3 linked regions of the Homo sapiens genome follow. The protein of the gene in region 3 purifies or fractionates together with the protein of the main gene of each other region. This does not show direct contact. Each region holds a gene or a part of one and is shown on either strand. Other genes may lie near its edges. The genes, in order: RBKS, SHPK and PSMF1.

The links.
Region 1: the proteins of PSMF1 (region 3) and RBKS fractionate together in Homo sapiens (co-fractionation; one large-scale study listed by BioGRID). This does not show direct contact.
Region 2: the proteins of PSMF1 (region 3) and SHPK purify together in Homo sapiens (affinity purification with mass spectrometry; one large-scale study listed by BioGRID and IntAct). This does not show direct contact.

Annotation. Positions count from the first base shown.
Region 1 is NC_000002.12:27,838,239-27,841,890, reverse strand, and holds part of RBKS (ribokinase), read left to right. Parts: intron 1-3,652. UniProt on the Homo sapiens protein: Catalyzes the phosphorylation of ribose at O-5 in a reaction requiring ATP and magnesium. The resulting D-ribose-5-phosphate can then be used either for sythesis of nucleotides, histidine, and tryptophan, or as a component of the pentose phosphate pathway.
Region 2 is NC_000017.11:3,622,711-3,626,362, reverse strand, and holds part of SHPK (sedoheptulokinase), read left to right. Parts: intron 1-2,131; coding exon 2,132-2,315; intron 2,316-2,871; coding exon 2,872-3,024; intron 3,025-3,652. UniProt on the Homo sapiens protein: Acts as a modulator of macrophage activation through control of glucose metabolism.
Region 3 is NC_000020.11:1,124,986-1,128,637, reverse strand, and holds part of PSMF1 (proteasome inhibitor PI31 subunit), read right to left. Parts: intron 3,141-3,652; coding exon 2,988-3,140; intron 1,213-2,987; coding exon 1,130-1,212; intron 1-1,129. UniProt on the Homo sapiens protein: Plays an important role in control of proteasome function. Inhibits the hydrolysis of protein and peptide substrates by the 20S proteasome. Also inhibits the activation of the proteasome by the proteasome regulatory proteins PA700 and PA28.

The sequences.
Region 1 (3,652 bases), on a different chromosome or scaffold from region 3:
TAGCCACTCTAACATGATGACTTCTTGATATTGTGGCAATAGTTCTGTGATTTTTTTAAAGAATAAAATAGAGAACCACACTGACTATTTCTCAAGATACAAAACTAAAAAGAAAAAAGAAAAAGAACAGTGTGTGTGTGTGTGTGTGTGTGTGTGTGTGTTTATATAAGTGATTTCTCCCAAAGTGTGTAGTGTTCTACATAGAAATAAATGGAAAATAAGTCACTGAAATGATTTTGTGGAGAATTTTAAAATGTTCGTCCTGATTTAACAAATTTTCCTCTTGGCAAAACAACATGCTGTGGTAAATTTTCCCTGACATTTAGTGTATTTTTAATGGACATGAAGCTGTCAGAAAGAATTCTAAGCCAAAACCCATTTGGTTCCATTTTCTTGGAGTGTCACAGTAAAGTCTAATGCTTATGGTTACGCATTCTCTGCACCGTGCCCATCTCAGCAGAGTGATGTGAATACAGGGTGCCACCCTGCTCCTGCTCTTGTCTTTCTTTGTATAGATCAAAGCACATTCTCGTGTAACTTCTCTTTTTTTCCTACTATCCCTTACTGCTCAGAGATCACTGTTCCCTCTGTCCTAGTCTAGTTGCCTGTTACCTACCCTGCTTGTGAAGGAGAGAAAGATACAGCAGCCACAGTTGAGGAGCTAACCTTTCACAGGTGAGAATAGAGTAATCCGGATGGGCAGGCAGCCTACCCTGGGGCTGTCATTGGGTGGGGTCCAGAAAGGCTTCCTCCATCACCTTCCGTGTAGCTCTTCCAGTTGGGAGCTGGAGGACCCAGGACAGCAGGAAGCGGGGTAGGTGACAGTGGGCCACAGACCACTTGGCCTACTTCACACTTTTATTAAGAGCCAGCATGCCTTGGTATTAATTCTGCATGAACTTCCTTATATAATAATAGCAGAAATAGTAATACCATGCATTTATATGTACTTTACATCTTATAAAGTACTTTCGTACACATTTTACCCTCAGAAAAACCTTATGACAAAGATATGGCAGGCATTGTTCTCTCAGATTAAAGGTGAGAAGACTGAGACTGAGAGGTTAAGTCATTTGTTCAAACAGTGTCGCACTTTAAGTTGAAGAAACCATGATTTCAGACTCTAAGACCCAAGTTCTGTCTCCTAGTTTAAACCACACTTTAAAGTGCCACAACCCATTGATTCCAACAAACTGAGCCTTTATGAAGAGTATCTCTAGAAAAGTCAAGTCCATAAATTTTAACACTGTCCAGCACGTGGCCTAAGCTTTATGTGTTTTTGCTGCTCAAGAAACAGAGAAGAGGCTCTACAGTGTTTTCAGCACTGTAACCCCAATAGAACTTACACACACACACACGAACACACATGCACACAAGCACACACACTCATGTGTCCATTACTCCTCCAGTCCGGTGGCTTTCTCTGGCCAAGTCAGCTGGTCCCTATTTGGTAGATACCGGCCAGATGCAGCTTAGATTCTATTCCATGAGGAGGGTGTGTGTGTGTGTGTGTGTGTGTGTGTGTGCGCGCGCGCGTGTGTGTGTGTGTGTGTGTGTGTGTGTAATGCATCATCATTCTCATATGCAAGAAGAGTGGTATCCCAGCACTTTGGGAGGCCGAGGTGGGTGGATCATGAGGTCAAGAGATCGAGACCATCCTGGCTAACACGGTGAAACCCCATCTCTACTCAAAATACAAAAAAATTAGCCGGGCATGGTGGTGGGTGCCTGTAGTCCCAGCTACTCGGGAGGCTGAGGCAGGAGAATGGTGTGAACCCAGGAGGCGGAACTTGCAGTGAGCTGAGATCGCGCCACTCCACTCCAGCCTGGGTGACAGAGCGAGACTCCATCTCAAAAAAAAAAAAAAAAAGAAGAAGAGTGGTATAATGAAAGGAGACCATTGGTTTGGGAATTGTGAAATATGGCTTTAAATTCATAATCAATCAGCAAATGGGGGATCTCAGTCAAGTAAGTCAGTTCCTCACTCTGGACGTCATTTTCTTCTTCTGTGAAACCAGAATTGGGCTGACAGCTCTCACAGTTCTTTCATGTCACTTTGGACTGATCCCAGAGCAGAGTGGGCTTAATGATCTCTTGAGCACTGAGCACCCTACCCACTGCCCCAGGAAGCTGCCTATGTGCTGAACAGCATTATTCCGTCTTCAAGAACGATGATAAAGTCTTCATCGTCATCATCATCTATGGGTTTTCTTATCACAGTTCCATTATCTTTACTGCTTACAGGTAGTGAATTTTGAATTAAGCACATTGCATAACTAGATTATGCTAATATATCAGTTATGAAAATCCAGAGGAAAAGATCCCTACATCTTTGAATATACTGTCTCAAAACTCTCTGTCGCTATCAAAATGAAAGCATTGATTTTTAAAGACATAGTAGCTACAACACCAAAAATCGGTAGCCCTGTATAGCCACCCCCATCCCCACCAGGCCATGAAGCTATGAGGTAGGCCCACTGAAGAGCCAGTGCTGCAGCTGCTTGTGATGAAATTATGCATGTTGGTTCTGGTCTTTATATCCATTTCCAAGCAAATGGAACAGTACATAAACAATTATAAATAATTGAGATTGTAAAATTGCCAAAGTTAAATTATCAGTATGATACAAAGTATCTTTTAATGCCACTTCAGTCCTTTTGCCTTTGGCAAACAAAACTTCTTATCTGGCCATCCAGACTTTCACAATGACATTGTCCAGCACATAGCCCAAGCTTTGAGTGTTTTTGCTGCTCAAGTCACAGAAAAGAGCCTCTAGAGTAATGGACAGCAAAGCCAGTATTTTGAGTGTCCCAACATGCTCACAGTGTCTTCACTCAGGGTGATTTTCTTCCCCGGTTTCTCTGAGCTAATAATTAGGGCCTTCCTAACTGTCCAGCCCCTGCCCTCCGTGACAACACCATAAAGAGTTTCTGCCTCATTTTCCTGCCTTTTAGCCTATACAACTGCTCCTCCAGGCCTCACCAGTTCCTTATTGACATTATTGTGCTATCCATTAACATGCAGTTAAGATAACTAGGAGTTTAGTTCATCTGACACTGTAATTAATAATAATTACTGTTGGGTGCTACCAGTCACCTCTGCAACTCCAAGTTACTCCATGGTACAGTCTGTGTTCTCTAGCTCTGCCTGGTCCCAGGATGACATCATGGCTTCCACCTTGTCTATTACAGATTTGCATTCTTCTTTGATTAACTGCATCTACTAATTTATGTTTCTTTCATCATGGTGGAGTATGCTCATTTGTGGTAGCACAAGCTGAGAAGAATGCTTTCTTTATGGCATTTACACTTTTCCCCTAAATTTAGTTACCAGTCAGACTCTAAGCCTATGTATCCAGTTACTATTGAAGAATGCTGTCCCTCAGTAAAGTACAGGCAAATAAGGTTGATTTTTATACAGTATTTACAGTAAAATTATGGAATTCCTTATTCTAGCAATTGGTACCTAAATTTTAATGTAATTTTTTCCTTAAAATTTGCTTTTATTGTGGAAAATTTCAAATATATATAGACATACAGAGAATAGTATGGTAAACCTATATATACTATCATTTAGCTTCAACAGTTACCAACATGTGGCCAGTCTTTTTTTCTACTTTTAAATTCCATCTTTTATTTTAGACACGGGGGTA
Region 2 (3,652 bases), on a different chromosome or scaffold from region 3:
AAAAATGGAGAGGAGGAAATCTTTGAAGAAATAATGGAGAAAAATTTCCTATAATTGACAACATAAGATAGAACACCCCAGCCTGAAAGGGCCCATAGAATGTCAAAGAGGAGATAAAGACAACCCCCAGCTAGATATATTCTAGTGAACTTTTAAGGATTTCAAAGACAGAATTCCAAAAGCTTACAGAGCAAAAGATCAGATCCCATATGAAAGAATAAGGATCAGATTGACATTAGATTTTTTTCAACAGCAGCATTCTGTGTGAAAAGACAATGGAGTAGCATTTTTTTGTTTGTTTTGTTTTTCTGAGATGGAGCCTCACTCTGTTGCCCAGGCTGGAGTGCAGTGGTGCGATCTCAGCTCACTGCAACCTCCGCCTACTGGGTTCAAGCGATTCTCCTGCCTCAGCCTCCGGAGTAGCTGGGATTACAGGCACCCGCTACCACACCTGGCTAATTTTTGTATTTTTTGTAGAGATGGGGTTTCGCCATGTTGTCCAGGCTGGTCTCGAACTCCTCACCTCAGGTGATCCGCCCACCTTGGCCTCCCGAAGTGCTGGGATTATAGGCGTGAGCCACCGTGCCTGACCAGGAGTAGTATTTTGATGACCTATTGCGGCACAACAAACTACCTCCAACCTAGTGACTGAAAGCAACAAGCATTTATCATCTGTCATGATTTTTTGGGTCAGGGGTTGGGCAGGGCTCAGCCCACTGCTGCTTCTGCATGGTGGTGGTGGAGGTTGCTTGTTAGTGTTCAACTGGTGGACAGACTGGTCCAGGGGGTCACGGTGGCTTTACTCAATGCCTGGTACCTTGGTGGGAAGGCTGGAGGCTGGGCTCACCTGGAAACGGTCTGCCGGCTGCTCTTTGCCCGTGGTCTCCTCAGCATGGCGGCCTCGGCGTAGTCGCACTTCTTACCTGAAGGCTGATTCCCCCAGAGAGACTGGTGTAAGAGGCTTGGGCGGGAGCTGCAGTACTTCTTATGACCTAGCCTTGGGAGTCCCAAGATGTGACTGCCTCCACATTCTCCTGGTCAAGCACGTCACCAAGGTGATTCTATATTCAAGGAAAGAGGATTCAGATGCCACCTCTTAATGGGAGGAGTAGTGAAGAATTTGCAACAATCGACCACAAAAAGTGCTTTTAAGCATTGAAGGGAAGGAACTTAGAACCAGACTATTATAACTAATCAAACTGGCATTTAAAGATGGGAACATGAGAAATATTTGGTGGCATCTGGGCCTTCAGACACTGCCTGGAAAGACTGACACTGAAATTGGCCTTGGGAGAAATCACTGAATAAGGGCAGAGAAAAATCCAGAGGATGTCACAAGGCACAAATGAAAAAAAATCTGACGGTCAGATGATTTTAAAGTAAATTTGGATGTCTAAAAATCAATCAGGGCCAGGTGCGGTGGCTCATGCCTGTAATCCTAGCACTTTGGGAGGCTGAGGTGGGTGGATTGCCTGAGCTCAGGAGTTCGAGACCAGCCTGGGCAGCATGATGAAACCCTGTCTCTACTGAAAGTCCAAAAAATTAGCTGGGCGTGGTGGCGTGGGCCTGTAGTCTCAGCTACTCGGGAGGCTGAAGCAGGAGAATCGCTTGAACCTGGGAGATGGAGGTTGCAGTGAGCCGGGATCATGCCACTGCATTCCAACCTGGGGGACACAATGAGACTCTGTCTGAAAAAATTAAAATAAAATAAAATAAAATAAAACGCAATCAGCTAAGAACTAAGGAAAAGAGAAAATTTACTGGTAATCAAGTAGCAGTAAGCCTAGATAATGTCATGATGAGGGTTGGAGGGACAGAGACCAGGGGACTTGAGATTGTGCCAAACATCTTCTGAGATGTGGGGAGATATGATATCAACTTCAAAAAAGAATAAAAACAAACAGAGAAGTGGGGCAAATGGAGGGAGTATGTGACGTGCCCAGGGTCCCACAGTCATTATGTGGTAGAGCCAAGTACTAAAGCCAGTGCTATCAGGACCCATAGGTGTGCCAGGCTTTATCATGGGACGATTCGCACATATTTTGTCACTCACCAGCAGAGTAGTATCAAGGCCGCGCCATGCCTAGTCATTTGCTCTTTTCTTCATTTTTGGTCATCTCTTTTGTTCCAGGCTGTGAATGGACAGAGGGAGGGATTACCCCGGTGTTCGAGCCCCGAGCTGTTAGCCACCTGGTCACGTGGCAGGATGGCCGATGTAGCAGCGAATTCCTGGCCTCTCTGCCCCAGCCGAAGTCTCATCTCAGTGTGGCCACGGGCTTCGGCTGTGCAACCATCTTCTGGCTTTTGAAATATCGGTACGGGCAACTGCACTTTCACTCGGGTGCTGGGTTTCCGGGAGAATGAGAATAGGCCGGGGCTGCGTCAGCATCACCCCGCCTGCTGGGCTGTGCCGCAGTGAGTGTGTCCTGGCAGGACAGGATGCAGCATGGCCTGGACCTCGATTGGGTCCAGAACCACGTCCTTTTGCAGAGGGCTCTCTATTGGTTATCCAGTTCCCACCCACATAGGGAAAGGAGGGAACAGAGAGGGCAAGTGACTTGCCGAGGGTCACGGGGAGAGTTCGCAGTGTGTTCAGGCCTGCGAGGCTGCTGAGGAGGCTGACGTCTGCTTTTCCAGGCTTGACACTTCCTCCTCTCAGGCCCTTCCCCTGGGGCTGACTTAGGCTGGCTTTGCTTGGGGCAGCTGGGAGGTCCTAATCCCAGGGACCCAGCTGGACTTGAGCCATAGTATATGCGGTTGTGGCTGCCACCTGGCCATGGCACAGCTGGTCCCTGCTGCCTGCAGCTAGGTGCGGCACATGCTTCCGAGTTCATGTTATACCGTGTTGGTTGTTTTTGGTATGAAAAACAGCCCAGAGTTCCTGAAGTCCTACGACGCAGCCGGTACCATCCACGACTATGTGGTTGCCATGCTGTGTGGCTTGCCAAGACCTCTGATGTCCGACCAGAATGCTGCCAGCTGGGGCTATTTCAACACGCAGAGCCAAAGCTGGAACGTAGAGACGTGAGTATCACATCCTTGCAGGCTGTTCCTCCTGCTCCAATCTGAAGGGCAACCCCGGAGCCAGTGCTTCAGTGGGTGCTTTCCCATCTGGGAGTGGTGGAGGGTTCCCAGAGGCCAGGATCAGGGTCCAGTGCCCCTGGCCTGTCCCAGACACGGGGCATGGATGGGCCCAGTGTAAGCACAGCCCTGAGCCCTTGGGTAGGGGCCTCAGCCATGCTGTCCTGCTCCTCCACAGCCGCCCAGACCCCAGGTGGGCTCTCCCTTCTCTGTGACCATGAGCCCAGTCTGTAGGTTTCAGAGTACAGCTTTCACTCTTTAATACTTAAACTTAGAGAGCCAGGCGCGGTGGCTCATGCCTGTAATCCCAGCACTTTGGGAGGCTGAGGCGGGTGAATCACCTGAGGTCAGGAGTTCGAGACCAGCCTGGGCAACATGGCGAAACCCCATCTCTACTAAAAATACAAAAATTAGCTGGGCGTGGTGGAGTGCGCCTGTAATCCCAGCTACTCTGGAGGCTGAGGCAGGAGAATCACTTGAACCTGGGAGGCGGAGGTTGCGGTGAGCCGAGATTGCACCACGGCACTCCAGCCTGGGGGACAGAGCGAGACTCTTGTCTCAAAAAAAAAAA
Region 3 (3,652 bases):
CAGATAATTTCATTATACTGATTTTAAAAACAAGCACTAATCTAAGTACCTTTGGAACACACTACTCTGCCTACATCTTTTGTGGAACATAGTTAAAAGACAAAAAGAACTGGAAATAAGTCATTTGGAACTTTACTTAATAGGTTTGTTCTTGGTAGGCACTGATGTAGCAATTCAGAAAATATTTGTGTGTATTCTAGGATCAAATAAATAAGTAAATACATTGATGCTGCTGGGAATCAGGGTTCTCACCACAGGAGAAGGGAGATATAAGTATGGAATAAGAGAAAAAGAATCCTGTAGTGTTATATTAAAAACAGAGGTGGCAATTTAAACTTATAAGGAAAAATTTTCCTAGCTCTATCTGCTGAAAAGGTCTAGAATCATACTACTGTATGATACCAACTATGTGACACTCTAGAAAAGGCAAAACTATGGAGACAGTCAAAAGATCAGTGGTTGCCAGCAGTTAGGGAAAAGGGAGTGAAGAATAGGAGAAGCACAGATTTTTAGGGTAGTCAAACTATTCTGTGTGATACTATGATAGACACACATTCTCATCTGTTTGTCAAAACCCACAGACTGCACAACAGCAAGCTTGAGCCCTAATAATGATGTGTCAATGTAGACTCATTAGTTGTAACAAATGAATCATTATGTATGGGATATTGACACAGGGAAGCTGTAAACTGTGGGTGTATGGGAGCAGGAGGTAATATGGGAATGCTCTGCACTTTCTGCTCAATTTTGCTTGTACCTAAAACGACCCTAAAGAAAATAATTTTTTTTTAAATAAGTTGGAGATTGGGGTTGGGGACCCAATGAGGCACACATCCTCCCAGGAGTCTGCTCTGACTGAATGAGTTGCCCGGGCTCCACCTCTACTCTGCAGCCACCACTGCACTTGTGGACTCTTGACTGCACCATCTTGTTTCATGTGGCATTTCCTATGGAAGTCTCCTCTTCAAATACATAAAAAACAGAAAAGAAAATTAGGAAGTTGTGCCCAGAAATAAAAGGTTCTTCCATTCACCTTCCTTAATTTTCTGGACACATCCACCCTATTCCTCATATCTTGCCATTAGTTCTCTCTTCTTTTTCCCAGGGAAGAGACATCATTTAGAAGTACCTGTGGAAGTCACCCAGGTGTTCTGCATCGATATAATCATCCAAGTTCAGGGTCAAGTCTGCCACTTGCTGTGAGCCATATTCCTAGATGGGTGAAAATAGAAAGTGAGAGACTGGGATATTTCTGGCTAAGAGTGGGAGGGTGAAGGGAGAGTAACAAAGTCTTCAACCTAAAGAAATATTCACATATGTCCACAGAGACATATATAAGGACTGTTTATATGAAATACCTTCCTAAGGCTTGGAGACTTCTCTGATTTAGGAATATTGCCTTTCCAAGGCAGAGACTAAAACACCTACTTCCCAGGCTCTTTTGCAAAAGGGCTCAGGCATGGTAATTGAGGTGTTGAACTGATGCATCAACTTTGATCTGCAGGTGAGCAACACGGAGATGCAGACCCAGCAAGGGGCAGACATCTTGCTAATGAGGGTAGCACAGAGGCCAGGGGGTCACATCAGCAGCTTAAGAGAAGGGTGCACCAGGGCAGACAGAATCAGCCAGTATCTAATACTGGGCAGTGGTGGTGGCAGCAGTGGTTTCCGGGGCATGATTTGGGACACTGCTTCTGGAAACCTAGCCTTAAACCTGTTTCAATGAGCTATCCTGGTTCTTTTTGTTTTGTTTTGTTTTGAGACAGAGGCTTGCTCTATTGCCCAGGCTGGAGTTCAGTGGCACGATCTCAGCTCACAGCAAACTCTGCCTCTTGGGTTCAAGGGATGCTCCTGCCTCAGCCTCCCAAGTAGCTGGGATTACAGGCACCCACGACCACGCCCGGCTAAGGTTTAAAAATATTTTTAGTAGAGACAGGGTTTCACCATATTGACCAGGCTGGTCTCAAACTCCTGACCTCAAGTGATCCACCTGCCTTAGCCTCCCAAAGTGCTGGGATTACAGGTGCGAGCCACTGCGCCTGGGTGATCCTGGTTCTTTTAATAAACCCTTTTTGCTTAAACTAACCCAAGAGGTTTTTGTTGTTTGAAACCAAGAACCCTATCTGACACGAGATCTAAATGTTCATCAAAAGGGAAAGGAATAAAGAAATTATGGTGCTATGAGAAACTATATAATAGTTAAAACAAATAAGGTATATCTATATGTATTTCCATGTCAAGGTCTTGCCTCCAAAACACCGAGTGAAAAAAAAGCAAAGTGCAGTATAATACATACAGCAGGATACTTCTACATGGTCACACCCAAACCACTAAGAAAAAAGTTAACAAAAGGAAAGTCACTGTCCTTGTGGCACTTATAGTCCCATGGCAGAATAAAAGCAAAGCACAAATAAGTACACAATTACAAGCTGCAATGAGTGTCAGGCAGGAAAATAAAATGATGGCGTAAAGAGACATAATTTAGATTTTTTTGGGGAGTAGGACTGGGTAGTCAGAACTGAAATTTTTGAGGAAGTCAAAAATGAAAGAGAATTGTCCAGGATGAAGGAATGGTGAAGGGCTGTGTGAGTGGCAGATGGGGGAGGGGAAGAGCCTTCCAGCATAGGAAATGTAAAGTGCAAGGGCTCCAAGGCAGCAAAGAATTCAATTTATTTAAGGAACTGAAGTAGCCCATTGGGGTTACCTAAGTTTTTCCCTTCTATCTTGTCACTGAATAGATTTACCTTATTTAACCATTCCCCTGTTGACAGAAAGCCCCTCCTTCTTAATTCCAGGTGGTGGATACCTTTGTGCACGAAGGTTTTCTATACTTAGGGTTCTCACCTTAAGATAAAGTTCCAGAAGTGGGATCACTAGGTAAGGGCTACATGAACATTGAAGCTCTGGATTCGTACCGTTAAATGGGTTTCAAAACAGCCATTCCTATCCCCATCTCATCAGCAGACTCACGTGTCCCAGAGACTCACCAGCACATTGAGGATCATGCTGCTCTCCACGGTGATGGCTTTCACAAGGAGCTTTCTGGACCCATCCTTATACTCATACCGGAGGACATACAGGTCTTTATTGTTGTTCCACCCAGCTGGCAGCAGTTCTGACTTCTTATCATTGGGACCCGGCTGGGAAGACCACAGTTGAGAGGAGAAAGATCATGAACTCAAAACACAGAACTATAAAGAACCTCACGAGATAAGCTAATCTTACCCACCTCACTTCACAGATGAAGATGTGGAGGTCAAGAGAAATGACTTGCCCAAGATCCTACAGCGAGAGAGAGGTCTAGGGCCCAGGTCTCTGGGCTTCTGTTCTACTGCGCTCTCCCTCATATTGAGCTACCTTTCTGACACAGCACTGGAACCTGTCAAGAATCTGCAGTGTTGGTTTAATAATTATCTCTTCCCCATCCCACTGCTAAGAATAAAGCCAGTCATCTTGAGGAACACTGCGAAGTTCTAAGTAGTGTTTTTCAAAGTTTGGACGTTAGGCTAACTTCAATAGGATTACCAAGGTGTTGACTAAAAACACAGATCCGAATACACGCTAACTGACTGCAGTGATGTACAAAAATTATAATTTCATAATACACAAAATGTAGCACATGTACAAATAACAAAGAATTATAAAATGTCTC